Linked DNA regions of Homo sapiens: regions 2 and 3 are each linked to region 1. Evidence: fine-mapped expression QTL. A gene starts in region 1. Each other region holds a variant in brackets. All regions are shown on one strand. Distances are between the middles of the regions. Region 1 holds the start of LINC01228 (long intergenic non-protein coding RNA 1228). Region 2 overlaps LINC01229 (long intergenic non-protein coding RNA 1229). Region 3 has its middle 36 kb from the start of LINC01228.

What was found.
Region 2: its variant is fine-mapped to the expression of LINC01228 in tibial nerve (GTEx, PIP above 0.99).
Region 3: its variant is fine-mapped to the expression of LINC01228 in whole blood (INTERVAL, PIP 0.96).

Annotation. Positions count from the first base shown.
Region 1 is chr16:79,823,111-79,834,002 of GRCh38, reverse strand. LINC01228 (long intergenic non-protein coding RNA 1228) reads left to right here and starts at 6,853. Exons shown (of 2, transcript NR_170199.1): 1 at 6,853-7,015.
Region 2 is chr16:79,794,614-79,805,505 of GRCh38, reverse strand. It overlaps LINC01229 (long intergenic non-protein coding RNA 1229), which reads right to left. Exons shown (of 4, transcript NR_104660.1): 2 at 7,776-8,015; 3 at 6,816-7,067; 4 at 4,163-4,333. LINC01228 (long intergenic non-protein coding RNA 1228) reads left to right here. Exons shown (of 2, transcript NR_170199.1): 2 at 6,997-7,671. Among named protein-coding and RNA genes, the nearest start is that of LINC01228, 27 kb to the left of the region's middle. The variant G/C (reference allele first, on the strand shown) is at 6,972.
Region 3 is chr16:79,857,800-79,868,691 of GRCh38, reverse strand. No RefSeq gene overlaps it. Among named protein-coding and RNA genes, the nearest start is that of LINC01228, 36 kb to the right of the region's middle. The variant A/G (reference allele first, on the strand shown) is at 4,764.

The sequences.
Region 1 (10,892 bases):
ATTAGGACAAATATCTAATGCATGTGGGGCTTAAAATCTAGACGATGGGTTGATAGGTGCAGCAAACCACCATGGCACATGTACACCTATGTAACAAACCTGAACGTTCAGCACATGTATCCCAGAATTTAAAGTAATATAATAATAATAATAAAAACCCTGGGTGCCAATAGGAAAGACAGGACAGCACGTGTTAGCTAGGTGACTGACAGTGTCTGCTGTGTTATCTCCTGTTCAGCTCAGCATTCTGAGTCACAACATCCTGACCATGTGGATAAGGTTTAAAAACCACTTTGTTTCTGAGATGGTTCTTGGTATTCAAATTACCTCCAAGCATTTGGAAATTGTAGCTTTTAGCCCTATTCTCAGTAACATTATCTCTCACCTGAGCTCCACCTGTAGCCCATCATTACGTTTCTCTTGAATTTGCGTGGGGGTGTCAGCTCCAGGAGACGCTACCTCATAACAGGGGGGCTGGGACCCACCCGTCTGCTTGTCTTTCAGGGCTGTGCCACCATGAAGAGGTTGTACTGGGCAGGCCCAGTTTGGTTTCAGAATCTATGAGAAGACAGACTAAGCTAATCATATGGTGCTATGGCAGTCCCTGAAGACAGAAACCCTTTCACTCTGGAGCTGTGGAGGCAGGAGTAAGCATCAGGCTGCCCCGGAAGAATGTTAGAGACAAGAAAAATCAGGACTGATTAATCATGGAGATAAAAGTATCAAGAGATGGTGGAAGTACCTCCTGGTGAGGCTGTTTGTAATGCCCAGTTTAGTTCACTGTCCACAGCAATCCTCAAGCTGGGGAACTGTGCATGGGGACACTGGAATGGGTTTCAGATGGTTGCTCAATTCCTTGCTAATATGCTTGTGTGTGTGTGCCTAGGTCTCTGGACTTTGCTAGTGGAAAGGGCTTCGGCTGCCAAGGGACTCTCAAATTTGGGATGTCCAAAAGAGGTTGAAATCTACCGTACTGGAGTGATCTCCCCACATCAGGAAATTAACCACCTCACTTCTGTGTTCATTTGTAGATGACTTCTCACCTTCAACAGGGGTATGTTAGCAAGCTACATCTCTCAGGTCCAATAATCCACCAACCGGAAGTCAAGGAAGCTCATCACTAGGCACCAACATGGGTCTATGTTTTGCATAAGGGTGAATATTAGTGAGACACCTGATTTATGTAGCCACCCAGGGTCCCATTTCTCAGGATTCCACCCACAAGTCACATGGAATAGCTACTCAGGTGTGGTGTGGCTATCAGAGTCCCTTACCAGTTCACACCCAGATAAATACAGAGATGGATAGTGCATATTTAGGAAATTTATTCGTAATTTGGCACAGTAATTTTATATCTACCTAATCTAATAGTTTTTAAATGGGGCTTGTATTTTGCATGTCTTGTATGTTTCATTTCTTCTAATTATTTTGGTTGTGTTTTATAAAATTATTATTAGTCTAAAATGCATATGAAATTTTTTTTTAAAAAACTATTTTTTATATAGTTTGGGAAGGATTAACCCAAGGAATCTTCACCAGTTTCCTGCAGTGAGCTAAGGGCACAACACAGCTCTGTTCTGGGACCTCTGGTCCCACTCCCACATCTTTTGGGCCGCTGTATGGGGGACAGGGGATAGATGAGCCTGAAGCAGAAACGCAAATGTGAACTTTCTTTAAAGGCTCCTGTTAACTTGAAAAGTCATAGAACTTGCACCACATTCCAAAATATATCAACTTTTGTTTTAATATAAAACCGAGTCTTTTTTTCCTTTATTTTCCTTCAAGACGTCAAACAAAATTTTAACTCCAAGGAGATGCACAAAGAGTTGTTAGTTGGTTAGCTAGTTAGTTAATTAGTTAATTAGTTTCATCCTGTGGTTTTATATGCCTTCAGAAACACCACCATACCCTCCTGGGGAATGGCAGTATTTGTTATTTTGTGAAGCAGCTTTGCAGAAGATATACAACAGTATTTAGGTCTCAATTTCAGATTTAAAAGTAACTTATATTCTTATAATATAGCAGTCAGTGTAGCCTTAATACATAAGAGCAAACCTTTATATAGCATTTATTATGTGCTAGGGAATATTATAGGCACCTCTTCTACATCAGCTCGTATAATCCTGAAAGCGCTCCTTTGAGACAGGTGCTATTAATATTATTGCCATTTTATAGGTGCAATACTGATGCACAGGGATGCTAACTCTCTTGCTCAAGGTCGCACAGCTAGTAAGTAGGTGGTAGAGCTCAGATTTCCACTCACGCAGCCTGGGTCCGGTTCTTGCTTAGACACTGGACTGAACTTCTCGTAGCCTTCCAAAAGGGGCAATCTCACAGGCTGTGTCAACTCAGTAAACTACTAGCTGCATGAAGATAATGCATTTGACCGAGGACCAAAGACTTATAGGGAAGTTACAGTTACACAGAGTTCTACGCTAGACTCTGCTTGGATTAAATTGATTGGGTTCTGAAAAAGCAAAATAACTTTTAATGCACATTTTGCTCCATATTCTGCTACCTAAATGATAGTCTCAAGTTGAGTTGAAGAGGAGAACAATTGTGTTTGGGGCTGTCCGGTTCAAGGCACCCTGGCTAGAGCAATTTACTGGAAAATTTGGGGCAATTTTATAGCCACAAGTAGACCCCATCATTTCCACTAAATTTTTTGGCCATGCCTTATTTAGTCATGGGTGTGAAGATTCAGCCTTTGTGAATTATCCACACGCCAACCCACATCAGCATTTGATTTGGTGTTTCAAGCATCCCATTTGGTTTTGAAATTAGTAGAAGAGGATGCTATTTAGGGGACATGTGAAAAAATATATAATCTGTCTTGTGTTTATGAAAAAAAAATTGCTGTGTTCTGATTAACTACACGTGACCCTGAGATATATCCCTGTGAAAATGACCTCCATTTGCAGCCTGATTTTGATTTGCAGGCTGTGGAATTAAATTCCACCTCATTGGTTTTATGTTTCTCTCACCGTTTGTCCATTCATTCACCAAATATTTATTGAGCACCAACTATAGCCAGACCCGATGCTAGGTGCTTGTGTGGAAGAAGAGGAGGAGACTATTCAGTGATGAATAAGACATGGTCTCTGCCCTTGCGAAGTTCATGGTTTTGTTAGAAAGACAGATATATACCCGTATAATGATAGTGCAGGGTATGTTCAAATCCCAGGCCAACACCTATCACAGATCCCAAATTAATTCATTGTTTAATAGCTTGGTTACTTTGGTCAAGGAAAATACCAGTTTACACTACCTGCAAATTAGTAACTGAACTAGTATTTATTATTTACCTACCTTGAAAATGAAAATAGTCGACTGAATGCCTATAAGGCTGACTTCACGATGTTGAGTACAAGTGGTGACATTTGTCTACTTGATATACTCATGTCAGAAACAAAGCCAACAAGCAAAGACCAGGAAGTATTTCTCTAATGCACCTGCATTTATCCCAGTCTTTGTTACTCCATTTGCTCCCGTCTTCACAAAACACTTCTATATCTATAACAGAATTGCCTTGTGGCAACAATCTCTGAAGATAGGCATTCTCATCTAGGGAGAAGTTAAGTGACTTGCCTAAGGCCACCCAGCTAATTCATGGTAGAAGAGAGCCCTTGAAGCAAGTCTTCTTATTCCAAGAACTGTGTCTTTTCTGGTTCATCGTGCCACCCTAATTATTTACTGAACACCTATTGTACATTCAGTATTAGACTCACTGTATGATTCGACGGCGTAATTTTAATATCCAGATGCTGGGTCTTCTAGGTCTCCTGGCCAGTTGTTTTATGAATGTAGGTTAACAGGCTATTCTATACCCAAGACAGGAATGGCCTTTTACATTACCACTCGTGAAGAACTCATTAAGGAAAAGTAGAAGCTTCCAGAGCTAGCTCTCTGTAGTGCACTCAGAGAGGTACCTTGCCTTCCCAGCCTCACAACTTTAAGTTTTCCTTCATTTATAAACCCATATGATTCTCTGGAGCCATTGGGGATGGTCAAACAAGACAAAACAAAACAAAGAAACACAAACTATTTTTTTCCCTTTTTTTGTTATTGGTTTTGACTTAAATGGAAAACTCAACTCAGCTTTTTGAAAGTCAAAGTGGCCTTTGTGTTTGGAAATTAACTTTTACATCCCCCAGGGGGTAGTTATTACTCACTGGATACTTTTAAATTTAAATGTGATCAATTAATTGATGGTAAAAATTATATTATGTAAATGCAAATTCAGAATTGAGTTTCGTGTTCACAGTGGCCTGAAAACATTTTAAAAGGTCAGGTTAGGCCTGAGGAAATTGGAAGTTTTAGTTCCTGCTATTAAAAAAGAGAAAAAAAGAACAAAAGAAAGAAAAAATGAGTTGGCAACAAACTCAGTAATGAAGACCGGAATTTTTTTTTCTTTTCTTTTTGACAATGTTATCACAATCTAACTGTACCATAGAAACTTCAATGTAAAGGAATCAGGCGAGCTTTTGATCAATGCTTTTTGTTAGAAATCCTACTCTACAAGCCTTATCAAGCTTATAAAGCTCATAAACACTGGAACCCCAAACAACTTGAGAAGATAGAAAGACAAAACCTGAGAGAGAAAAAAAAATAGAAAAGAATGGTGATAAAATGAAATTGAAGAGGGTTACACAAAAGACTCTGGAGCCATTAATTTTTATAGCTGATGCAGCTACTAATATTTTATGAGGTTTGGAAATATCAGTATAAAAAGCACCCTAATATCTGCCCTTGTTCTCTTTCTGTTGTTGTTTTTTTACAAAGATAAGCCCATCGTATTTGTACCTTGAACACGGCCTTATTACAGTTAAATATGGTAGAAAATGTTGTCTCATTGGAATCTTTCCAAGTCAATGTTTTCGTTTTTGTTTAGTTTGATTTTCCACCTTTTCCAACACAAATTCATCGACTCCTTTATGTGCCATTTCTTTCCCTTGTTGTTTTTTTTCTTTCTTTCTTTTAACTTATCAGATCTTATTTCCAGTTAAATCGCAGCAGGGTTTATGTTTACTAGCTTTCCTGGACTGTACTGCGTGCGATGTCTCCATTTAAATGTAGATTTTGACTTTACACTGGAGAGGTAGGTGAGAGCCTTTCCGCTGCAGAATTAACATCAAGGTGAAAATATAAGCTCAAAATAGATGCTATGTTTCCATAAGTAAAGCTGTGTAAGTCCAGTTTGAGTATTCTGAGCCATTTATTCGCAAGTTCCCTTGTACCCCATAGGGGAAAACATTGTACAAATCAGATCTATGTATTTATTGAGGCCATAACACAAAACTTTAGGTTAAGGAAATCAAATGCTGAAGGGTAGCCCAGAAACTGTTACAGACACTGATCCAGTTGCAGTGGGGGGCTCTACCCATGACCTTTGGAATTAATGATAAATAGGACTAAGAAGGTGTATTTAATAACTGTTCACATCTCTTTTCCTTCTTCAGGAGCCATTTGCACTATGAAGAGATGGAATACAAAATATATACTCTAAATAAAGCTTAACCAAGTGCAGAACATAAAGCATTTTGAATCATAGCCCCACCCACACACATTTTTTTAGATTAACTGCAGTAGATATCTATGAAATTCATTTTAAAGACAAAAAAGAAATAATATTTTACCCTCTGTCTTTTGCCCCATTTTATTGATAGGCCATTAAAGAGGGCAGCGAGAGAAGTTAAGTATCCATATTTATATCTAGATAACTTATACTGTGTTTCTTCTCAGCTATTCATGGACCAACCCTACTCCCAAATGACATGGATGTGGAGCTTTTAGCACCATCGAAATAACTCAATGAAAAAAGTACATAACTTTGTTGTGAGCTCTTCCAAAAACCTGCACCATTGAGCCTGTAAGTAAGTTGTCCTTATAGAAGCGTATCTTTTGATTGGGTTTATCAAAAACGTAGTGCCATGCTTCTCTTAATGACCCAAGTAGAACCCTAATCATTCCTTCGGGAAATGTTTCCTAGCCTAAATTATAATGTATATTAGTCCACTACCATGGTACAAACTATGTGGTCTAAAAACACTGTGTGTCCTCTGGACTCCAGTTTGCCCATTTGTAAGCTGAGAATAATAATAGTACTTATACCATGAGCTATTTGAAGAATAATGTCATTAAATGCAGGAAAAGGGTTGAGAACAGTGTCCGGTACAGATAAACACTCAATAAATATTGGAAATCCACTTACAAATACGCATGGATATGTGTAGATACAGAATTCTTTCTTGAAGACTTCAGGAGCCAGAGAGAAAGGAGTGGCTCTAACTAAAGTCAAGTATCATTTACTCTCCTGGAAATCTCGATTACAGGGGTGGAAAAGAACTTCCACAAACTGTAGGCTAGTGATAACTAAATGGTAGGAAAGTAAGGTCAAAAGCAGCAGACCCTGGCAGAAACAGGGGGGCAAGAAGTCAAAAAGATTTTAAAGAGGGCCCCCAGGTGCCTGACTTAGCTCACAGGCTCCGGGATCTTCGGATAAATTCAGGGCTAAGAAAATGAAGATGCCCTTACCACTTTGACAGCCTGACCAAGAATGCCATCCTTTGCACCTCATCTGGTCTAAATACTCAGTTTACAAATGCATGTTGCTCAGCATCATGTGTTATAGATGCTTTATGTTTATTCAAGAACTCAGTTTCCAGACATGCGGTTTACCGCAATAGACAGCTGTTGATACTCTGATCCCATGAGCATTATAATATGTTTTAAAATTGCGACACTTTTAAAACCAGATGTTCTACATAAATTGTACGCAGGGGGAGAAAAGAGAAAAAAAAGAAAGGGGAGAAGGAAAAGAGGACAGGCAGATCTGTCAGTTGGCAAAACACCGGAGCTCCTCAGGCTCACAGAAAATTCACAGCAAAACTAAAGTGAACCCCATAAAGCTTGTTCTGGGTTTTCTTCTGCAGAAAAGATTAAAGGAAAATTGTTTTAGCAGAAAGAAAGCTCCATCCTCAGGAAAGGCAAGCAAGGGAGCTGCAGCTAAGGGAAGGTAAGCCCCTGGCTCTGCTGTGGTTCTGAGGTTCTTGTCTCCAGCTGTTTTCCAGGATACGTGGGGTATGCACTGAGGACTTCACTGGTTCCTAATCTCTTCTGAGGTCCTACGGGTATTGCTCAATTTTACAGCCTCCACTTCTCTCCCAAGAGTTCCTTTTGGTTGGAACAGAGGCTTGTAGGGTGCAACATTGTAGGTATATGTTGTGAGGTCATGTGGTTAAGAGGAGGGCCTCTTCCTTAGACTACCTGGGCTCAAATCCTGACTCCACCACTTAGTGAGCTCCCATGGCTATATTACTTCATGTAAGTCTCGGTTGTCTCCCTCTGTAAAATGGGACCATGATGTCACCTCCCTAATAAGGAAGCAGAAGCATTTAGCATAGTGCTTGATGAACTGTAAACATCATATATTCTAGATACTTTATATGTAAGACCTTTTTACCAATTCAAACTACTTAAGACTGAGTTGCTTTGAGAGGAATTTGGCATCTTTACTTCTCCCCTGGAATAATTGTATAATTTTGGGTGTCCTCAAGTCAGTCCTGGAAATCACGAGTCCACCCAATTGGAAATGACCAGTTTGGAGAGAAGCGGAGTGGTAGCATGCAGTCACGGAAAGGCGGCACCATCAGACAGATCTGGGTCCTCACCCAGGATCTGCACTTTGCAAGCTGTGTGGCCTTTTCCAACAGCCTCAGCTGGCCAGGCCCTGACTTTCCACCTGAATTCTTAGGAATACATTTCAATCTCAGAGAAGGTGTGAAATTAAGAGGAGCCAATTCAGGTTAAGTATCTCGCATACAGTAGACACTCAATCACTTTTATTTCTCTTATTCCATCATCTACATGGCTCCTGAAAATACTTTTTTGTATATTTATCAAATAGCTTCTGCCCAAGTACAGAATTTATCAAATTATATTTCTATTTGCTCATATACCTCCTCTGCAAAAATAAATAAATAAAATAAAGAAATGCAAACAAAAATAATAACAAAGCAACAGCATCCGAACAAAATAAAACAAAAGTTTTAATAGATATACACTGACCCCTGCTTACCTCTCCAGTCCAATCTCATGATTCCACCCCATCCCGACCTCCTACCCAGCCACCCTGAAACCAGCCACCTCCTTCAAAACATCTCCATCTCCGTCACCCTTGGCCTTTGCATTTCCTGTCAGATTTTGGCCTCATACCCTTTTCACTGTTCATATCTCAGCTTAGACTTCAGTTCTAGAAAGCTTTCTCCAATATTTGCCTCATTTCTTTGTGTTCCCTTGATACTTAATTCTTACCCTCATCCCAGCTAAGAGTTCACTGTATTATCTTTTCCCGTTTAATTGTCTCTGTTATTGTACTATAAAACATTTGAACGAGGGGGTGGTGTCCTGTTCACCATGTTACCTTAGCATCCAGCACAATTCTGTTCCTAGAGAATTGAATAAATACTTGGTGAAGGTATAAATACATAAGCGCATGGATTGAAGTTTGGATGGATGGGTGGGTGGGTTAGTGGGTAAATTAATGACAAGGGAGGGGATGAATGGATAGATGGATAACTGGATAGATGAGTGGATAGATGGATGGATGAATGGATTGATGGATGAATGGGTGGGTGGATAGATGAATGGATGAGCAGATGGATGAATGGATGGACAGATGGGTAGATGGATGGATGAATGGATGGATTGATGGATGGTTGGATGAATGGGAGGATAGACGGATGGATGAGCAGATGGATGAATGGATGCACAGATGGGTAAATGGATGGATGAATGGATGCATTGATGGATGGATGAGAGGATGAATGAATGGATAGATAGATGGGTAGATGTATGGATGAATGGATGGGTCAATAGATGAGTAGATGGATGAATGCATGCATGGATGGATGGATGGGTGGATGGATGGATAAATGAGTGAGTGGATGGATGAGTGGAAGGATAGATGGGTGGGTGGATGGATGAATGGATGGATAGATAGATGACTAGATGAATGCATGGATGGTAGATGGATGGATAGTAGGTGAATGAATGGATGGGTGCATGCATGTATGGGTAGATCGATGAATGGATGGGTAGATGGGTATGTGGATGCATGAATTAATCACTTAGGACTGGAAAAGTGGGCATCTGACGTCAGCTACATTTTCTGTAGTTTAGTTGTAATGTCTGCCAGCTGAATGTGGCCAGGAAATCAACAGTGATAGTGAATTGACTATGTGATCAAATCTTTTCTTTGTGGTAACGACTTTCTCTTTCTGGTAAGTTCTGAAGTCCTCCGTGTGGCCTACTTCGCTGTCACAGGTCAGCTCTGCTTACTTCTCCAGCCTCATTTCTCATACACCGTTATCTCTGCTCCTCTTCATCTGCGAGGTCTCCCTGACTACCATCTCTTAGCCATATCCTTCTTCCACTTTTGCCCGCCTGACTCCTACTCATCCGTTTGGGCTGAGCTTCAGTGTAGCTCCTTTAAGTGAGTTTTTCTTGACCTGTAACCACCTTCTCCCTAAGTCTCCAAACTGGATTAAGCCTCTCTGTTATTTGTGCTTACACCTGCTTCTCATGTTCAACATAGCAGTTACCACAATTCTAATTATGTGGGAATTGGTGTGATTATTGGTTTAACGTCTGCCTCCTCAACTGCAGTGTGAACTCGAAGGACCAAGTTGATAGTATTCACTGCTGTAACACCAGGGCATTTCTGGGGTCTGGCAGAGTATGTACTTAAGAAAAAACTCTTATTGAAATTAATATTTCAGGGGTTGGGGCCTATGAATCCCATAATATTATTTCTAAAATGCAAAATTGGTAGTAAATGGCATGAATTAATATAAACGTACTAGATGTTTATAGCACATGTCCCCCTGGTCAGTCAAATGTGATTGATTAGTCACAGGGATGGCTAATACATGAAATATGAAATCTCAGATTTCATATTAGTTTTTCAAAGAAGTCCACAATAGATCTCCACCTTGGAAAAATGAAGTGAACATCCACCACTCTGGCATCTGAGAAAAGCCCATATTATGAAAGATTCTTGAAAACTATCAGGGCCCCTGTCCACAGTCCCAGACAATGTTGAGGTTTGTGTTTTCCATCTGTGCCAGATTCCCCTTGACAAAAGCGTCCTTCACAGCTGTATGTTACACACGAAGAATATTCTGGGTCACTTGAAGTCATCAATGATTCATGCCTGTGGAATCAATCTGTCACCAAGAAAGACATACATGGAATAGAGCAATGTGCATAACAGATTCCCTCCTTCAGGGAAGAAACTCTCCAAAAAGTTTGGGGGAGAAACAGACCTTAGTGGTCCACAGGACAGATGTGAACATCAGCCTCAGCCATCACCAGGGTGTCAGGAGGAGGGAGAGGAGAGGGAGAAGAAAGCAGCTAGCTCCTTTTAGAATGAGAGTATGCAACCCCAGGGTGACTAGATACCAGGTCACACACGTCACATAAAAGAGTCAATGACAGTAAGGCAGCAGGTGTTGTTTACTATGTGCCAGACACTGTGCTCAGGGCTTGCCAGGCATTCTTTATCCACTATTTACTTAAATTCTTACAATCACCCAGTGAAGGCTGGTACTGTTATTATCCCCCTTTGTGTAGGATCAAACAGAGCCTTCCTTCTTTTAATAATGGGGAAATGGAAGCAGGATGAGATTAAAGGTCTTGCCAAAGGCTACATAGTTACTAAGTAAGTAGCAAGACATAATTTGAATCCATTTCTGTGCAATACTAAAGCCTATGATCTTTCTTCTGTCTGCTATTATGTCTTGACCCATGCCAAAGTTTCTGAAACTCACAGAAAAAGGAAAGCTTTCTGGCAACTCAGCAAAGGCAATTATGAACAAACCCAGACTGTACTT
Region 2 (10,892 bases), 28 kb after region 1:
CCTACATGGTACCTACACGATAACTTTGCAACAAAATGCTTCTTTGAACCTCATTTAACTCATCTGTAAAATGGAATAAGAATGGATGATTGTCAGAATGTACACAATTCTTACCTGATAGTATACACATTATGGTCATACCGTCAGCACTCTCATCAGTGCAAAAATAGATTTCCTAAATATTTTGACTGGCCATCCTTTGCTATGGCAGTGACACTAAGTTGAGAACCCATACACATTCAAAATTACAAAAATTCTAGACATGGGAATAAAAAGCATCCAGGGTTTAAAGCCTGAGTTCTCGAGTTCTCTACATGCAAGTGCATTAGCATGTGTTTTGACACGGATGTTAATTTTAATGCCTGTGATTGAGAGAAAGGGCAAAAAGCAGGGCAACTAATGTACATGGCAAGTCCAATCCCTGTTACACAGCATGGTTAGCATGGTTTTGCCTTTCCATCAACTCATGGCCAAGTCCCTGTGCTTGACAAGCCTTTGAGAATGCAGGGAGGGATTCCAGGACCAAGACATGCTGTCTGGTTGTTCTTGATAAAGGGTCTCTTGGAATGGGGCGTAACTCTAGTATCTGCTATCCGAACCCTCCTCATTCCTTGCGCCATACTTCAGCTACCTCTGGCCATAGCATTCAGGCTACTTTCCCTTCACTTCCTGGACTACACGTTTTAGGAGCAGCTGAAGGGTCTAGGTATCTTTCTCATCCCCAGTGTACAGAACACCAGCAATGTATGTGTGTGAGTGTCAATCGTTAGGTGCGTAATGAATGAATGAATAATGAAACATTGCCTTTCCCTATTGTTGAACACAGCAAGCCATATTACATGTATTGATTTAATTACGTCTTTTTAGGCAGCACGTATATGCTGGTTTTACTTGGTGTCATATCCTCAGGCTGAACACAGTGCCTGGCCCATGGTGGATGCTTAATAAAGGTTGTGTTGTGAATGAATGAAGGAGTGAATAAATGAGTAAACCATGGACTGGCTCAATAAATATTTAATGTTCTAGGCTAAATAAAACATTTGCCATCTGATGACTTGGGTAACTTGGGGTATATGCATCAGCTTATTAAGTATATGGCAAAGAATCAGTCATTAAGCTTGTCTTGTTATAAAATAGGATTTGAGGGCTGCAATAAATGCAGAATTATGCATGCATGAAATAAAACTTTGGTTGTAGGCTTTCTGTAGCAATTCCATTCATCTGAGTTCCATCCTGACTTGAGGGTCTTTTTTTCAAAGCCTGTTTTGATTGTTTGTTTGTTTGTTTGTTTTGTTTTTTCCATTCCCCATCTCAGAGGCAGACCTGTAAATGCCAGTATATGTTTTTCGTAAACGCTTTCTCACAAAAAGATAAAAATAAAGCATGATCGGGTGTGTGATTATTTTCATAGACACAATTCAGGCTTTATTTTATAAAGCAGAGAATGTACAAGGGGCTTATCAAACACAAATGTCAGGACATCCCTAAGTGTTGGCAAGGATGTGAGAAGAACTGTCATACATTACTGCTAAGAATATAAAATGGTAAAACTACCTTAGAAATCTGTTTGTAGTTTCTATTAAAATGAACCTTACAACTGCACTATAACCCAGCAATTCTATTCATAGGAATATATACCCATATATTTGCATATGTCCAAAAATACATATATAAGAATGTTTATAAATGACTTACTTATCTTAGCCAAAACATAAATAGATGCGGTGTTTCCAGAAAATGGAATACCATATAGCAATTAAAAAGAACAAACTACTGGTACAACAGTACTGTCCATGTATAACTTAGTCTGGAAGAATCCCACACATATTTTGTTCAGTTAAAGAAAGCAGACAAAAACTGTATGTGTGTATGTGTGTGTGTGTATGTGTGTGTGTGTATAAATGTACACATATATACTTATATATGTATATATATGTGTACATACATAAGTATATATATATACACTCTTTGTTATATGTATATATGTATATATATATACACACATATATAAAACATTCAAAGACAGGCAAAACAAATCAATGATGATGGACATTTAAATAGTGGTAGAGGGAAGAGTACAGTGGTGGAGGGAGGCACATGGTAGCCCTCTAGAGAGTGGAAATGTTTTCTATCTTGCTCTCAGGGATGTGTACATGGGTAACCTGTCTCATTAAGTTGTATACTTAAGATTAGCATACTTTACGTACACCTGGCTATAGGTATATTACTCCTCATTTAAAAAACTAAATAAATAATGTCACCTGGACCAGTGGCTCACACCTGTAACCCCAGCACTTTGGGAGGCTGACGCAGGTGAACTGCTTGAGGTCAGGAGTTCAGGATCAGCCTGGCCAACATGACAAAACCCCATCTCTACTAAAAATATGAAAATTAGCTGGATATGATGGTGCGTGCCTATGATCCCAGCTACTCCGAAGGCTGGGGCAGGAGAATCCCTTGAACTTGGGAGGTAGAGGTTGCAGTGAACCGAGATCACACCACTGCACTCCAGCCTGGGTGACAGAGTGAGACCCTGCCTCAAGAAACAAATTAAATAAATAAATAAATAAATAATGGCAACAAACGTCAGGATACTTTTGCTATACCAAAATTGCTTAATTCCTTCTTTCATAACTGCAATCTTCTTCTTGGTCCAATTTAAATAACAACAAATGGCCTTGGTTAGATTTCCTAGGTGTTACGTTAACAAAATCAGTTCATCTACTCTGATGTTGGTAACATGGACCTGTTACTGCAGAGGACAGTTGTCATATGCTGCATCTAGCTTTGACCCAGTAGCCATGTGACTTGGGTTGGTATTTTGGCTTTGCTGTATATTATCTATGGGACCTTGGGCATGTCACCTTACCCTATTCAAGTCTCAGTCCATTTATCTAGGAAGTGGGAGTAATATCAGTATAACCTCATAGGGATGAAATGAGAAAATATATGTGAAAGTGGTTAGCTCAGTGCTTGGCACAGAACAAAATTTACCTAGCCATGGTATCGAGAGAATTAATACCAGTATTTGTGCTAGCATAAAGAGCAATTGCAAAGGTAGTAACAGAATTACTAGAGTCACATTGACCTGTGCAGACCATAGCCTAGACAGCTGTGTTTTGAGCTACAAGGATCACAGTGAGGGGAATATGAGTGCTGGTAGTTCTAATGATATTGCGGCCATATCATGTCAAAATGGAAACCTCCATTCTGGCTGGGAAAAAAGGGAATGTGGCCTGTAAGATATTTGCTCCTGGATCTGGAACAGCCCATAATTAAGGTAGGGCATTTATCCATGTTCCTGGTGTCACCAGACCCCAAAATAAAGCCAGATGTGCCATGTTCCTGCCTGCACCCCCACCTGTGGTTCAGTGGGCAGATGGATCACATAATTCTCCATAATGATTCTCCCCCAGTGGCTGCCACAGGACAGTGTGTGATTACTGTGCAGAAAAGGAAACCAGGGGTTAAACCTTGGTGGAACCCATGTCTGGTTAGATCATTTATGTTGGTAATTACTTTCCGTCACCACAATGGAGTGTGTCTGGTTGTTCATTATGGGAAAAGTGATTTGCTGTGGTGTCCACATGGAGAAGGCTGTATGACTCATAGGTTGGGACCCAGATCAGGGAATGACAAGTCCTGGATAGGGCTGATTCAGCCTGAGATGTTGCCACGTTTCCTGACAAAGCTTTAACACTCAGAGGTAAGAAAGGCGTGCACTCAATTAGCACTTAGAAGATAGATGGATGATTCTCCCAGCAGGTCGTACCCTTAGCAACAGCAATGGAAGCTGCCTTTTGTGTAGTACTCACTATATGCTAAGCACTTATGTGCAGTGTGGCATGATGACCTCGCATGGTCATCTATTCTGTCTGTCTAGGCACAATTCATCCCCACTTTAAAGATGATGAAATGAAGGATTATAGGAATGAGGTCAAGCTTGTAGGTAACAGAGCCAGATGTCAAACTCTATCATGCAGGATTCTCAAGTAGGTGCTTCCCAAGAGGACCTGGCTGACTCTTTGAGAGTCTAAACTTCTGCTGGCTCTGACTAGGCTCTATACTGAGGCTCTCCTTAAGGATGATCAGATTGCTTTACTCAAAGGAACTTTGTCTGTATTGGGCCAGTTATCCTTGTCCTATATATCAGCTCTCAATCTCCAAACGAAACATTACATTTATTCATGCAGGGTTGTAAGTTGATGGTGGCTTCTGGATTTTTCCAAGAAGGCTGACCACACAAAGAAAAATCTTCAGGAAAACGCAGATTCAGAATAACTCAGCTTTTACAGGTGAAATCTCACACACATTTTTAGATTCCTAGAAGATCCTAAGATGGAAAGAAGAGATATGAAACCTTACGTTGGCTCCACCGAAACACAAGCTCACATCTCAACGCACTAAAGTACCACAATAGTTTGACACTAAGACAGTATCCAAAAGCTTTGATGACAGAGCCCAATAAATAAAAGTAGTTACAATTGGCTCTTATGCCTAGTATACAAGATGTGTTCAGTGAAGTGTAGTAATTGTTTGTCATTCTGTAAAAGATAGATAGGTATTAGTTTTTATCTTCTGCAAGTGAGCCAAGAGCCTTCTTAAAATAATTCAGCTTCCAGACAAGACTCTATCCCCCACGAGAGTCCCACACACCATTTTGCATGGAGGGTAGATTCCACCTTTGCCCATGGGCATCAAGTTCTCCTGGACCAAGTTGAAACCCACTTCTTCTACAGAATCATGGGAGCAATGTGTCTTCCAACCAGAGGATAGAATCAAGCTCTTCTTAATGATATGGAAGACTGGAGGAAAAAAACAAATGCACAAGCATTTGATTGAGAGGAACTTATGCCTAACTTGCAATGGAATTTATTTATTCCCATCCACTCTGGGGCTGCTAGGAGCCACTGTGGCTGGCTGGTGTAGGGATATTCTCCACCAAGCCATCTCCAGGGGCTGCAGACATGCACTCACAGAAACAAGTTGCATGCATACAGAGGGTGCTATGGTGGCCTGAGATTGTAGCAACTGTGCATTGAGAGACACTAGAAGTTGAAAAAATGGCAGGCAGGGGTGAGTTGCAGTCACATGTCCCAGATTCACATCTGGTTAGAATATTTTTAGCTCAACACATTTCTCGTCACTGAAACTGAGCATGAGCTGTCACATACATTTCAAGATAGGGCCAGACTTGACTCTGTTTCCTATTTTTCAGCAGCTAAAGGCCCATACTTCAGAACTCATTTGGGTGATTATAGGAATGATGAAGTCATGACAATTTCATCATCGGGAAGGCCTGCCATGTCTTGTAAGTGATTTGATGTTTACATAGATCGGGCTTGGAAAATAATAAACTCTCAGGAAAGATATGGACACATCTCCCTAAGTCACAGAGAAGAAAATGCTAATTGCAAGGAAGAAACCAAAGCAATGTGTCCCCAAAGTTGCTCTGTGGAAGCCCAAATGTAGCTACCTTTCATGAAAAGACAATGGATGCCTATCATAGCATCATTTTAGAGATCCTCAAACTATATCAGCAAACAAAAGGCTCTGAAGTCCAGCAGTTATAAAACCTTCATGGCAGGATTTCCAAGTCTTTGCTCATGAAAACGTTTTTTTGCCCAAGGAACACCTATTACCTGGAATGACTTCTAGGAAATGCTGGGCAACAAAATGGCTTGTGTTGTTGCAGACGTCCAGAAAAATATTTTCTCCTAATTTGCAAGTCCTTAGAGGTGCCTCCCAAACAAAAGTCCTGCTGAATAGATTCTATCTGGCAATAATTAGTTCACACTGATTTTCAGAGAAAGAACCAAGAGGCTGGAGTTAAATCACACTCAAAAATAAAAGAAATCCCACTTCCGGGTATATCCCAAAGGAATTGAAATCAGTATATCAAAGAGATAGCTGCACATTAACGTTCATTGCAGCATTATTCACATTAGCTAAGATATGGAATCAACCTAAGTGCCCATCAACAAATAAATGGATAAAAGAAATGTGGTCTATATAAACAAAGGAATACTATCAGCCTTTTAGAAATAGTAAATTCTGTAATTTACAATAACATGGATGAACTTGGAGGATATTATGCTAAGTGAAATAAGCTAGGTAAAGAAAGACAAATACTGCATAATCCCACTTGTATGTGGAATCTAAGAAAGTTGAGTTCAAAGAAGAAGAGAGTAGAATGTTGGTGACCAGAGACTGGGGAGGGGTGTGGGTGGGGAAAAGGCAGATATTGATCAATGGGTACAAAGTTTCAGTTAGACAAGAGGAATAAGCTTTAGTGATCTATTGCACAGAATGATGACTATAATTTTTAAAAATGCATTGTACATTTCAAAATTGCTAAAAGGATAGATTTTCAATGTTTTACCAAACAAAAAAATACACATGTGAAGTGCCAGACTTGGTAATGAGGCTCATTTTATTACAAGGTAGCCATATCAAACTATCATATCTTACCTTATACATATATACAATTAGTATTTGTAAATTAAAATAAATATAAAAAAAAATGAATGCTTAAAATATGAAAGAGAAGTTCTCAACTTTCTTGTGATTGCCATTCAAGTTCCTTTCTCGGAAAGGAAGTCAAAACTCCAGGTAGAAGGCCAGCTGCAACCTTCAGAAAGTTCTAAGCAGGGCCTTGGTCACTGACCGTGGTTCTAAAGTTGGAAGAATAAGTTTCTAAGTCCTTTTTCCTTTCTTAACTTCAGTGTAACTTCTAACAACTTCCTTAACCTCCTCAACCCTCCCCATCCTGATCTTTAAAATGAGAAAAATACAGTAATACCAGCAGCACCTACTTGTTTGATTCTCATGTGGATAAAAGGAGGCAACAGAAGGAGAACTGTGAGCCTGTTGTTAGCATCCATCCAATCCATGGTGGCTATTAGGACAATTGGCCATTTGTGTTACTCTCCAGTGTTCCCATAGCAAGCTGCACTGAAACCCTTTAAATG[G/C]TGAAACTTCATTATTTTTTTCCAGGGCAATGAAGAAGGTGGCAGCCAGACTGAAGGGAAGAGGGGCTGCAAGACTTGGAGTTGGTGATGGCAACCCTGGAGAGGAAAGGAACATGGCCAAGAGGTTGGGATTCATGCTAGATCAAGAAGGAAGAACCCAGAAGCAGCCCAGAGGCTTCACAGCTACATAAGAAAAAAAAGGGGGCCAGGCACGATGCCTCATGCCTGTAATCCAGCACTTTGGGAGCCTGAGGCGGGTGGATCACGAGGTCAGGAGTTCGAGAGCAGCCTGACCAACACAGTGAAACCCTGTCTCCACTGAGAATACAAAAATTAGCCAGGCATGGTGGCACACGCCTGTAATCCCAGCTACTCAGGAGGCTGAGGCAGGAGAATCCAGGAGGCGGAACTGCGGTGGGCAGAGATCACGCCACTGTACTCTATTCTGGGTGACAGAGTAAGACTCCATCTCAAAAAAAAAAAAAGGATGTGACTATTGCCAAAACCAACTTGTAAAACATCACCATGATATGTCACCAAGCTACCTACGAGATGCTGGGCATACCTTCGGTGGAAGAAAGAAACAGCTATACAACTTTGGGTTGCTTCATTTTTCTCTTGCATTTCTAGTTCAGGTTGGTTTTGGTGTTCTGTTGTTGTTGTTGTTTTGCATTCCAAAAAAAATAAAAAATAAAAAGAATTGCTATCATGTGAGCCTATGGGTTTTTCAAGAATATGTAGCCTGCTCATTGCTTATATTACATGGGGCCTGGGCATGCAAGCCCGAGTGAAAGGAGTACTCACCCCTGCTCAGAGTCCACGAGGGGTGCTCAGATGGGCACTTGGGAGGTGGGTCGGGGCTTCACTTGTGTGTGGGTTTTCCATGGTGCTGTAACAAATGATGAGAAACTGGGTGCCTTTAAACAAGAGATGGAACCGAAGTGTCGGGAGCTCGTGCTCCCACTGAAGCCTCCAGGCGAGAATCCACCCCGGCCTCCTCCAGCTTCTGGTGCTCCTGGCCTCCTTTAACTCCAGGCAGCATCACTCAAGAACACAATGAAAATAGTATTATGAGACCCATTTTACGAATAAGGAAATTAGAGCCCATATTGATTAAGCAATTTGTAAAAACGTGCATAGATGTTTAATGGTGAGAGTGGAATTTGAATTCATGCATGAGTGGCTTTAAAGTTCGTACCCTTAAGCACTAGTTCAGCTGTTCTCAAACTTAAATACGCATAATAATAGCTTAGGGGAACTGATTCAACATAGGTTTCCAGCCTCAGAGGATTTGGAATCACTGGTATGGAGTGGAGCCTGAGAATGTTCATTTTAGCAAGGAAGGTGATCTTGGCGTGATTCTTAAGAATTACACTCTGTACAGAAAGTTACACTGCATGCTAAGCTCACGCCCAAAGTAGGGCGACCAGCTGTCTTAGTTTGCACACAGAAAGTCTCTCATGCCAGGGAAACTGGGATAGCTGGTCACCCCGCAGGCCTCACTTGAACCTACACAAAACACTTTTAGCACAATGCCTGGCACATGGTGGACCCTTGAAAAATATTTGGGGAATGAATGAAGGAAGGAAGGAATATAGCTCCCAGTGGAAGCCTAGGGTTGACTGGCTTGGCTTCCCTGCAGCAAGAGATTTGAGGAAAACTTCAAAGGCTAACTCAGAGGGACAGCTTCGCCTGCTGCCCTGAGGAGCTGGTCACAGCCTTGGAAAAAGTGGTACCTCATCATGTTCCCATTTGTGCTGACGTGTGCAGGCGACGCTTGTCCTTAATGCAAAAAGAAAGGAGAAGAAGGCTGCAGTAAATCTCTTCTGTCATGATTACTCTTCCTGCCTTTTCACTGTCTAAACCCTCTAAACCCTCAACCCTCCCTTTTCCCTTCTGCAGAGAGACCTGTCTACTGAGCAGTGGGAGGTGAGGGAGGGACCCTGGCATCGGGAGAATGAATTCCGTTCACGCTCAGCCTCTGACCCATTGGTGCTTCTTCTTGGCAAATCAGTGAACCTGTTGGGACCTGAGAAATGGCACTGAAAAGCTATGGGGATTGAACTCCTTTCTTTTTTTTTTTTTTTTTTTTTTTTTTTTTTGAGACGGAGTCTCGCTCTGTCGCCCAGGCTGGAGTGCAGTGGCGGGATCTCGGCTCACTGCAAGCTCCGCCTCCCGGGTTCACCCCATTCTCCTGCCTCAGCCTCCCAAGTAGCTGGGACTACAGGCGCCCGCCACTACGCCCGGCTAATTTTTTGTATTTTTAGTAGAGACGGGGTTTCACCGTTTTAGCCAGGATGGTCTCGATCTCCTGAACTTGTGATCCACCCGCCTCGGCCTCCCAAAGTGCTGGGATTACAGGCGTGAGCCACCGCGCCCGGCCTGAACTCCTTTCTTATGTCACAAGGTTGGCCTGTGGTATGTGCGTGTGGACAGGACTATGCTAAACCAGCAAGGCTCAGATAATAAAATGCAGTTCTCTTAAACATCCATTCATTCATCATTCCCTTATGCAATGGGTGGCTTGAAGGCCGTGTTCAGAGCTAAGGCCAGCACAGGGCTTTTGGAATCTTACTAGTTCAGAACTTCTGTTCCTTGAGGAAGACTAGCATGTAACAGATAATCATATAGACCAGATACATAATTATAATCATTACATCATGACGTGTACTAGAAAAAAAAAAAGACAGATTCATCAGACCACCTAATATGGGGACCTGACCCAGTCTTGTGGCTTATGGAAGATTTCCCTGAGGAAATAACATTAAGATGAGGTCACAGGTTGAGTTGGAATTCGCCAGGTGAAGAAAGGGTGGAATGGCATTCTAAGACAAGGAAACAGCAGGAGCAAACACGTTGTTACAAAGGATAGCACAGTTTTTCAATCCATCCATTTTTTTATGTTTCCCCTCTTGCTCCCTCTCTCCCTCCTTGTCTTGTTCTCTCCTTCTCCTCCATGTCATTCTAACATCTTTCTCGTTTTACTTCTAACGTGGTCAATATACATTCATCTGCTTACTATTGGTGTTGTTAAACAGATATTATTGCTGGATCCCCAATTGGCACAAATGCTGTGATGGACTTTCCTTCCAAATTTCCATCTCTAAGCATGCCCCAGCATAAACACTGGCATTCAGTGGTGTGAAAGAAAATACAAGGCCACAAAAAAAACTCCTCATTCCATTGAGTTTTGCATTACATTGCAAATCACTCAAAAACACTATTTCTGGTACTGACCTTGAAACAGCTTCCGAGGTGTCTTGGGCTGCTGGTGGATCCTGAGGTCTTCAGGTGGGCAAGGCAGCCACAGTTGAGTTGGTTCAGCTTGCAGATTTGGTAAAGAGCTTGGAAGACATTTCCCCTGGAGTAGAAACAAGTGGCATCCTTCCAGGAGAAACAGAACTCTTTTCACGTCGTTCGCTCTGATTTGTGCTACATTAAAATAAACCTTCAGTGTCAGCTTCTGGTGCGAGCCTTAGGACTCTTCTAAATGCATCATCTTCACAAAGACATTTTCGGTGTTAATCAACAGAGCGCCATGGATTTGACGCTCTGGTATTGGAGTACAGGTTTTGCAGTTATTTATTTACTGAGAGGGAAACAGAACAGTGGTTCCATTTGCCACTCCTAAATTTATTGTCAGTCCTTCTGCGTGGGGTAAAATTGTTAGCCGTCTTCAACAGCTCTCAGAAATAAGCATTCCAAATATATTCGCCTACTGTACAAAGATGTGCTGATGCCACTCCTTGCAATTTTGCCAGAGAGGATGGGAAATAGTAGACGTAACTGGTAGGAAATCAATCTTGGGAAGAAAACAAAAACCTAGGACTTTTGCAAAGGCTATGAAATAGCAGGAATTGCAAAGGTGCTTCCTGGCACAGCCTACTTAAAAATGCCCGGGTTAATCACTACAGGCATAAA
Region 3 (10,892 bases), 35 kb before region 1:
GTTACTAGTGAATTCTCAGGACTTAGATAGAGGGTTCCTTGGCTCACTCAAGATGCCCTCCCATGAGAACATGGTTGGTTTGCAAAGGTAGGGAGAATTTTTAGTTGGTTGTACCAGACACTGGAAAGAAGAATGAAAGAGGTCATGTTTTGATTCAGCTATGGGAATTTTTACATATAAAATGAGCTTAACTCATATTTGCAAGTATGTGTATTTTGGATTACATAAGACAAAATTGTTCGAAATTACTTAAAGTCATCTCTTGGTCTTGAAAACCCCATTGCTGAGAGCAGGCGTATTTTTAAGACAGAGGAAAACATGAGATTCATTCATCTCATTAGTTTCCATTGAGCCATTTCAAACGACGTCTAGGAAACATATGTTGACAGCGTAGTGTCAGATCCACATAACAGTATCAGAGATAGGAAGGCCCCGCTATTTTGAGGTTGCCTTCTCCATTTTGTATTTTGTGTTTTTTTTTATGTTTTCCAAGTTCTCCAGGAGGAACTGGGACTCTATTGTCCTTATTTAACAATATTTTAAAAATAATACTGCTGTTTGTGTGTTTTCCTTTGTTTTTAAACTTTGAACCAATCCAAGATTCTTAAATAAAAAGATAAAGTCCTTGGTCTTTAACCAAGGACTTAATGTCCCCTTAAGGGTTGGAAATAGAGGCACGAAGGCTATATTATCCATTATGTTAGCTTAGCACTTACTATGCCCCAGGCATTAACCTCAAAACTTTACATGCTGTAGCTCAAAGAAATCCTCAAACTACAGTTTTGAGGTAAGTAGGTGCCAGGACTGTCCCCATGTTACAGAAGAGGAAATTGAATCTTCCAGATGTTAAGAGATACTTCCAAGTTCATAAACCTTGTGAATGGTGAACCTAGATTCAGTCCTACATTGACTGACTATCCCTCCCTTGGTAACTATCAGCTACAAGCATTCTACTACCAAGGCAGTTCAGCTCCTATCTCTTATTTCTACCTCTATGAAGTATGGTAAGCCCTGAGCATTGTCCTCTCTATACCTGAGAAAAGCGCTCTGCTGTCTCCAACCTCGTGTCAATTCAAGAGCTAAAGCTTCCATGAAAGTTCTCAGATCTCCTTCCTGATCTTCAAGTTAGAGAGATCTTCAAGATAGATTACATGTATAGGGTTTCTCCCTATCTTGGAAACAGATACGCCAGCCCTCCTCAAGCCTTCAGATGACCGCAGCTCCAGCCAACAGCTTGAGTGGATCTCTTGAGAGGTCCTGAGCTAGCAACATCCAGCTAAACTGAATTCCTTACCCTCAGAAACTGTGTGAGATAATACATGTTTGTTGTTTTAAACGGCCGTATTTGGAGTAGTTTGTTAATGAGCAATTGAAAACTAATACCCCATTCTATTCCTGGGATCTGATACCACAGAGCTGAACCTCTGACAATGAAAGGGTCACTATTGGAATAAACCAGGTTAAATAATGCATGTAGGGTTAAGCCATAGCTCTCTGAATTTGTTCAACTACGGTGTGACTTTGTCAGCGTGAGACACTCAATTCACACAGAATTATTTCCCCTCCCTCATTTATTTGTTCCCTACAGAAGAGAATGACTAATTATATGGGTATGAAGTTTAGAAAATTGGGGTTCAATTCCTTTGTTTGCTGTTTATTAGGAAGTCACTGGAAATTGATTTAACCTCTTTGAGATCTGATGCTTCAATATCAAATAGGGAGGGTAATAGTACCTTGTGGGGTTGTACAATTCCAGGGGCCACCTGGACGTCATAAGGATCCACTTAAATAATGCACATCAAACACTTAACACAGGGGCTGGCACCTAATAAGAACTCAAGTAATAGTACTATCATTATTATCAGTAATAAAAATTATCAAGTTTCCTGATACCAGTCAATAGAAAGTTTCTTTAATTCTAAAGGCTTGCCACCATTTAACATAATCCTGATAGACAATGTGTCATAACAGCTAAGTGTTCTAAAAATGTGTTCTACGCATGGATTTTCTGCATTAGAATTCTCTGAAGTGTTTATTGAAAATGCAGATTCCTAAAACGAATCTCAGAACCACAGAGTCAGAATCTTTGGAGTGAGAGTTGGGGAAGGAGCAGTGGAAATCTGCTTTTTTTAACAAGCTCGTGCAGCATTCTAGCGCTCAGAAAAGCTCCAAGAGCACTGTTGTAGAAGAGAGAAGATTCATCTCGAACTGAAGGGTCCAGGGTTCAAGTCTGATCTCTGACATTTACTAGTCAAAATAAATTAACCTTTCTAATTCTCAGTTTCTCATCTGTGAAGAGTAAGCATAAATCTGCCTTTCTTAGCTCAAAGAGCAATTATAAATATCAGCTGAGATAATAAAAACATTAACTGACTTGTATCTAGTGTGTACATAGTTGACATAGTTGCTATTCCTATTTTGTCTCATTGAAACTCATGACGGTTCTGTGAAGTCAGTCTTCCTCCCTGTTGAAGTTGAGAGCAGAGGTAGCAGAGGTTACATTACTTAGTTCAGGTCACACCATGACGGTTACTGCATAAAGCAAGGTCTTACGATACTAATTCAAGACGCATTTTTCATTCCCTAATGTTGACTAAAATCGAGGTGCCATGTCAATTTGCTGTTGCTGTGCATTTCTTTAACTGTGACTACTGCTTTGTTGTGTTACCTAGCCCAGAAGAAAGAGGCCAAGGGAGGGATTACGTTCTAATTGCCCAGATCACAATTATACATGCAAAGAGCAATAATTATTTTAATACAAAAACTGTGAGGTCATTGAAAATGCATTTCTTTAGCAATGACATTAGAGAAACTGTCAGTCTTGATGCGTCAAATAGTTCTAATTTGTGCACCATTAAACTAACATATCTTAAATTATGAAACTGATTACCTTTGTTCAGTTTTTCTGGGTCATTATTTTGTTTCTTCTTCATAGGGTTTATGCAAGGGAAAAACATTTGGAAAATTGTTTGTATCCCCTACATGCTCCGTGAATAAAGAAAAGAGCTTCAAATGGATGCTTTATATTTCTATTAGTAACATTATCTGCTACTATACTATGTGAATTGGCTGGATAGGTTTTCACTGAGTTTGGAAGGTAAGATTCTGAGATGGTTTTACTTAAACTATAGGATGTGGTGTACACGTCAAATAGATATTTGGGTGCTAAGGGTGTGGGCTCCAAGAAATAATCACACATCTTCCAGAGTAGCTAAACTGAGACCAAGGAGAAGCCTCTGTGACCAGGAAAAAGCAAGCCATATATATTCAATGCATTAAGCAGAGAAAACAAACCACTTTCAAATGTGAATACAGCCCTGAAGTCACAAAGTAACATACTGAACTGCCCGTGCTGATTTGAGATCCAGTTGATTCTCACATGGTAACTCTAGGCTGATAGTTCCAGGATGAGATCTATACTTAGCACAAGTGTCTTCGGTCAGATTCACGCAGGAGTAGACCTAGAGACAAGGATTCGAGTGCAAATGGCTTCTTTGGGATGTGTTCTCAGAGGCACTGGAAGGGAGATGGGCAAGTTTAATGCGGAAGGAAGCATGGAAGCTATACTAGGGTGCATGCATGGAAGTGTAGGATTTTTATGTGAGGAATTGTGGCTTAGTCATAATGGGATCTCTGTGACACTGAGTTGAACACACTTCAGAGTTACTGACCCAGGGAGCAAAGAAGCTGGAAGGTATTTATCCACCAACTCCCACCTATCATGGATGGTCCCAGGGTGTTAAGACACTGGCACGGCTGACATTCCCTGAAGTGGTCAGATAAGACTCTTGAGTGGAGAATGAGGAACGCTTGCAGTTAAATGCCCTTAGCTTCACTGGCTAGATGAAGAATTTCCTATAACCCAGAAGGCTGTGTCATGGCTAAGTTTTTGAGGGATAAGAACTATTATCAATTTGCTTAACTTGAATGATAATATCATTACTAGAGTAATGATCTCTACACTAGTAATGCAGCAATAGCCATTTATTGAGTGACTGCCATGTGATAGTTACCATAGTAGGTCCATTACATATCTCATTTAACCTACACAATCATCTCCTATCGAGGGCATTATCATTCACATTTAACAGATGGGGGTGGTGGGAGATTCGGAAAGCTTCAGTAACAGGCCTAGGATTACACAGTTGGAAAAGAAAGCCAGAATATGACCCTAGGCCTTTGAGCATAGGATACATCCTCTCCACATAGCAGGTTGTGCATATACATTTCTTTAATAGATGAATTGAATATCCATAAAGGGTTCTTTTTAACTTTTGACACTTCAAGTTGGTATCTTTGTTGACTTGCAGCTGTCTTGACCGTTTTCCAAACCTCACTTCTCACCTGCTTGTTTAACCTTCCTAGAAGGCTGAACTGTATTCTGTAATAAAATGCAGATACTTTTAGTCATAGATGAACACGTTTGTACCTTCTGTGTGTATATAAGGCCTCGGGAAATTGACACTGGAAATTTAGGGCCAGTCAAAGAGGCTCAGATACCCTATTACGGACTCTGTATGTAAACACAGTCCCCTGACTCTCTATGGCACCTTCCTTCCTTCAAGTTAAGCGAATGTGCTCCATTTAGCTTTATATAATATCTAGCTTTTTTCCTGTGCTGGTTCACAACAAAGATTATCAAAATTTAAGAGAAATACGTTGGCTCTCCAATAAGGTTTGAACTATGCAGATGTTGCTGGGATAGAATTTAAGAGATAAGCTGTTTCCTACCACAGGAAGCTTCTGCTACTCGTAGTGGGTTC[A/G]TAGCTGAAAGATAAAAGTTCAAAAAAAAAAGGTTTGAAATGCTATGAAACTCTTTTCCTAATGCAATCAAGCTGAAACTCCCGGGTAACCTGGTCATAGGAAGAAAGATTCTCCAGGGTGATTCAGCTTTTAATCTCTAGGAGTCTCAGCCCCTAGCATGCTGTGTTCATCAACTTGAAGCCATAAGAAAATGAGAGTTTGGAATAGTAAACTGCATAACCACTTCTGTGTACCTCCCGCCCATCCACCCCTAATCCCACTCCCAAGATGCAAGAGGGAAACCAAGGCCATTTTTTCCAAATGGACCAATGTCTGAAATACTGGCTTCTATTTCTGAATAGCTCACTTCTGAGCTTGTTTGCCCAACTCTGTAGTTCAATTAATTTCACGCTTCAGGGATTTGTAGGCAAGTTGACCAGTCTAACGGCAAAAATGAAATTTTATTGGAAAGGGTGTTTGTTGGGAAAACAAAAGACTCAGGGGCTAATTTGGTAATAGGCTGTGGAGACTTTCTTCTCAGGTCATTGGTTCAAATCTAGAACATGCTTGGCAGTGACGGGAAATCATTACTATTTGATGGCTGCCTGACAGGTAGCCAGGAATCTGTTGGTCTCCTGTCCAGCAGCTCTCTAGGCAAAACAGCAACAGTGACAGGAGGAACACCAACAATTACATGGAAACACAGGAACTGAATTACCAAGTTTCTCCCTCAACAACTTGTTACTTAACTGATTAATAGCTTTGTCAATTTAACAGATAATGACCCACCAAAAGATTCCAACGCCTACCTCTTAGGTGTGAAATCTGAGTAAAACCAGGAAAAAAAAAAAACTGGAACATAATGAGAAATGAAGAACTGAAGAACAACAGAAAAAAAAATTACAAATCTTTCTGTCAATCAGAGACTTATAACTGAGCTAGAACATCTATACGTTTATATAAAAAAGGCCAAAAATCTTAAAAGGCCAGAACCGGTACCAGGAAAACCTGCAGAGACAAACCCCAAATAGAGTGACTGCGTGGAAAAAATTGGCAGATTTCTATCCAAAAGGTCCTTATGACACTTACAAGGCTAAGAGCCACGTACGGCTTATTATGGGAAGGTTGGCGCCATAATAATTTCGGCATAGCCATTCTCAGCTGGAACCAAACCACCAGATTGGATCTCCACAGGAGTCCATTCCTAATGCAAGCTGGGCCAGATAGTGAGAACTTGATTCTAAGCAGGGGAATTTCCTTATGTCCATGGGCTTAAGTCAAAACCTTTAAAATTATTTTAATGTCATTTTTCTTTTTAAAGGGACATGAAAGTACTAAGAAAATTTTAGGCCCTGAAAGGGTTTCTTTGGACTTCCCCTCCCTGCTTTTGTAATTGCCTTTTACGGAATGGAACTTTCAATTTATTCTGAATGTTTTACTCTGATATGAGCAACTTGACTCAAGCTTCATATTCTGACATGGGTTTCTTGTACTTCCATCTAAATAACACTCAAGACAATCACAAATTTGAGCTCAACGTGTGTTTATTCCCTTAGATTATAAACCAATGGAGTTTCAGAGAGGTTACAAGATTTATCCAACATGGCTGTTGGCCAAAGAGAAGAGTGTGCTACAATGACTTAGAAATAAATGTGTGAAGCCGGGCAACTGGTTATTTTGCAGAAAGCACCAGAACCTACCCATCTAAAGGAGGCTCATGCCCTTCAAAGTACACCGGTGAGAGACAGCGTGTTGGTTTCTATGTGGGTTACTGCCCCTGGTTTTGCTGCAGTGATATCATGAACAACCCTCCAAATCTGAGTGATTTACAAACACACCAGGTTTGCACGTTGACTGTGGCTCAGCCAGCCTCGGCCAGGCTTCACTTCACGCCAGCTCCAAGTGCCTCTCATTTTAGGTCCCAGGTTGCAAAGGCAGCATCTCATAGGGGAGTGTCCTTCCCATCGCAGTGGGCAGGATCAAGGAAGGCAAGCAGAAACACACGGAGCCTCTTACAGACTTGGCTTGAACTAGCTCTTGATCACATCCGATCACATCCCATTGGCCAAATGGGAAACACGACCAAGCCCAAATTGGAATGGTGGGTCAAGGGGAGAGAGAATGTTTGCTGAACTTTAATACAATCCACCACAGTCATATAATTTAAAGTCCTCTGCTGAAGAGTGATACTCTTTTATGACTTAGCATGTGTACTAACAACTCTAGTGCTAACATTCACGGAGCAACTTTCTGCTTAGTACAGGAATGTGCTAATCAACATACACATCCATTACACCATGTTATCCTGTCAACAGACCTCCAAGGGAGGAACTTACCCCCATTTGACCGAGGAGCAATGACAGCCTTGCGCAGCGAAACCCTGCACTTCAGCCCTAAGACCTGCACAGAGGACCTGGGATTGAAGCCCATGCATTCTAGACCCAAGCCTGCGCTCTTCTGCAGCCCCTGGCTCTGTGCTGAAGACTGGACTGGTGGGAGGAGGGCAGCAATCCCCCACTTATCGATGGGAGATTTGGCTGGGACCTTCCAACCAAAGCAGGCATCACTGTCACTCAAAGAAGGAAGGATCTATTTTGGAAACAATTGGAAGATGTTTGGCTAACAATGGAGGCTAAAGTGACTGATAAAATTTGGTAATCTCACTTGAGGTCTGAAGTGAGATGTGACTATAAATTAAAGAGGCTGACTTTATGTGCCTTGGTACCTGGTTTAGAAGAAAATTCTGAAGCAGTATCCCCATCCAGTCATCATCCGCTGTCTGCAATGGAGATTAGGAATACCTTTACTATCGTGGCTCATGCATTATTAATTGTATATAAAGGAATGAGTCTGCTACTCCAACATAAGTGTTCTGAAGGGCAACTCATTAATATTTTACATGTATTTGACAACTTTTAAGCATCCAGTACACACTGTACTATGCATAGGACATTAAAAACAAAAACAGAGACGGTGTCTGCCTTCAGGGAGCTTACAGTTTATAGGTAAAGACAGACCTTTGCTAGATAAGCACATTACTGGTCCTATAATTACAAGCTGGGTACACATTTTTTATTAATATCTGAAAGAGAGGGTCACAGTTCCAGGAGAGCATATAACCAAGATGAGGAAGTCTTCCATAAGAAGTGACAGAAATCTAAAAAAGGAGAGGGCCCCACATAGGTGAAATGTGTATGTGTGTGTGTGTGTGTGTGTGTGCGCGCGCACATGCATGGACTGTTTCTGTGACTGCGTCTGCATGTGTTCATGAGTGTGTGTTCTGTGCATGCATGTATGACTGTGGAATGAGAGACGGGGAGCATTCTAGACTGAAGAGACAAGATGTACCTAGCCCTTGGGTGGGATGAAAGGAGGACAGTGTTGTCATCCAGCAGGGCTTATGTAAAGGGCTGGTGCCTTGAGTTTCCTCTTTGGCTGGGACTCTCCCAAACCCTCTGTCATGCAGCTGCCTCTGAAGAAGGCCAATTGCCTGTAACTCTCCTTAACCTAAAACCAAGTTCAAAAAGAAAAGATGTCACCCCTACTAAGATAGTCCTCAGCATCTGCTGCAGTCCGTATTTTGCAAAGGGAGACACTCTACAGCTATGACAAATTAATTCCCATTGCCTTACAAATAATTCAGGTGTGGCTAAGGAACTGGACCCTACACAGGTTAGAAACTGCAGTAACAGAACCAGCCACTTGCCATCAGCTAGTGGGGTCAGTCCCTTGCTTAGGGCATTCAAAGCATGTTGCCAAAGGCTCACTATGTTCCAGATGCACAGGAGAGAGAGAAATGACAGGTGCAGCCCTTCTTCCCATTAAGGAGTTCCTGCCTGCTGGAGAAAACACACCCACAAGCATGCCACTAAATACAGTACACTGAGATAGGCTCCAAGAGTTGTGGGCAACACTAAGAAGAGACCCCTCACTCACATTACGGACTGGGATGTCAGAGAGAGATTCTTGGAAGAGTTGAGGGTTCAGAAAACTTACGGACAATTACTAGTAATTCACTAAGCAATGCAGGGGCACAGGTAGCTCTATCAGAAAGAACAGTAAGTACAACATCATGGAAACATGCAATAAATAAATAAATATCCATACGACACACACACACACATACACACACACACATGAAGAACACATTAGAAAACACAATATATCACAATATAAATTAGAGCATTTAGCCTGCAGATCAACATTTCACGTGGAACAAGTTTGTGAATTACTAAGCCTCTTGTTGCTCAATCTGCAGCAATATTGCTTTATGTTTTCCTTGCTAAAGAGCAACTGTGCTTTTTGCTTCCAAACTCATCTCATAAAGCCTCCTTAAAGTGCCACTAGAATTACTACCTAAACTCTTGTCTGAATATTGCATATTTTTGGAATCAGGATTGCATGCGTGGTTGATTTTGGTGTTACCAGCGCGGTTACTGTGTGTGTGTGTGTGTGTGTGTGTGTGTGTGTGTGTGTGTGTGTGTGTGTTTTCTGGGCTACAGTGTCCCTGAGCCCTAGAGGACTTCTGCACAGCACATAGCACCAACAGCTGCAATGGGCCAAATAATAGGATTCCTTACCTCCAACTCTCAGTTAAAAGTCATCTGCACCAAGAAGACTTCATCCAGCCAGGAGTCACCTTTTTTTCTCCTTTGATTGGCCATGGGAGGACTTGCTTCACTGTGTGTCCTATGTACATATATAATATCTCCTACTTGACTGGGGGATCACAGGGTGCCTTGCTTAATCCATTTGGGACTTAGTATAGGGTGATAATTACAGGCAGAGCTTCAAAGTTCTGCTACATTTCTGCCACCAGATTGCAGGCAGGTAATCTTACACGCCAAGCCCTGTGTTCTTCCTTTCAGAATGACAGTTCATCAGAAAATATCTTTTAGGCATTTACCATGTAGCCACTATTGTGCTAGAGGGAAAATAGACATAGATCTGGCATGGCTGATTAGAGAGAGAAAGAAAAACAGAGAGAGACAAAATAGAAGTAAATAATATTTGAAACAGTAAAGGGAATATAACTGAAGATATATTACAAATTTGGAAATTGTGAGAGAGTAAAAGAACCATTTTAATAATAATACATTTTAAAAAGTAGATTAAATAGACAAATCATTAGGAAAGAAAACAAGTTTGAACATTTTCTAATAGGAAAAATTTCCAAAACTTCCAATACAAAACTGAAGATTTCAAGGGGACTTGTAACATTAAGAACTGGATATATATATATTTATTTTTTAATTTTTGAATATATATATTGAATATATATAATTTTGTCATATATATTCTGATTGCATATATATAACATATATTTATACTCTGAGTATATATAACATATATATTCTGATTCAGTCAGAATATAGCTATATCCTATTTTATCAGATTATATATATCTGTATATAACAGATTTTATATACAAAGGGTATCTAAGTCTCTCTGTCTCTCTCTCTCTATATATATGTATGTGTGTGTATATATGTGTATATATATATATATATTTACACATATATACACACACACACACACACACACACATACACTGGTATATATGTCAAGCTAGTCAAGTAAAATTTATAGTTTAATCTTACCTATGAATAAAAACACAAAACAATCCAGAATAACACCTAGCAAATCAAGCCTATTAATGTGTTACCCCAATAAAAAATAATAGTAACAGCAGCAACAACAACAACATATCCTAGTCAAACAGAATTTACCATTGGAAAGTAAAATTAGTTTAATAATGAAGGTAAAAATATCAATCAATACTATTAATTATATTATCAAATTAAAGGAGATTACTTATAATCATCTTGATTGAAATGGGAAAAGAAAACAAAACCACAAATCATGATTTATTTTAAAAAATCAGTAAATTTAAAACAAGAAAAAGAAACAATGAATGAACAATTCTTATAATCTAAGGATAGAATAATTTTCCTAAGCTAACAATGAGTACCTATCCAAAACCTAGAGCAACCGTCTGTTCTTGACAGTTTAACTATATTATTGTTGCATTAAAATCAGGATTGCAATAAGGTTACTATTACACTTTCTGGCTGACATTTTCCTGGAGGTACTAACCAACTCTGTAGGACAAGAAAAAGAAATGAAAGATACAACACAGGGAAACAAAG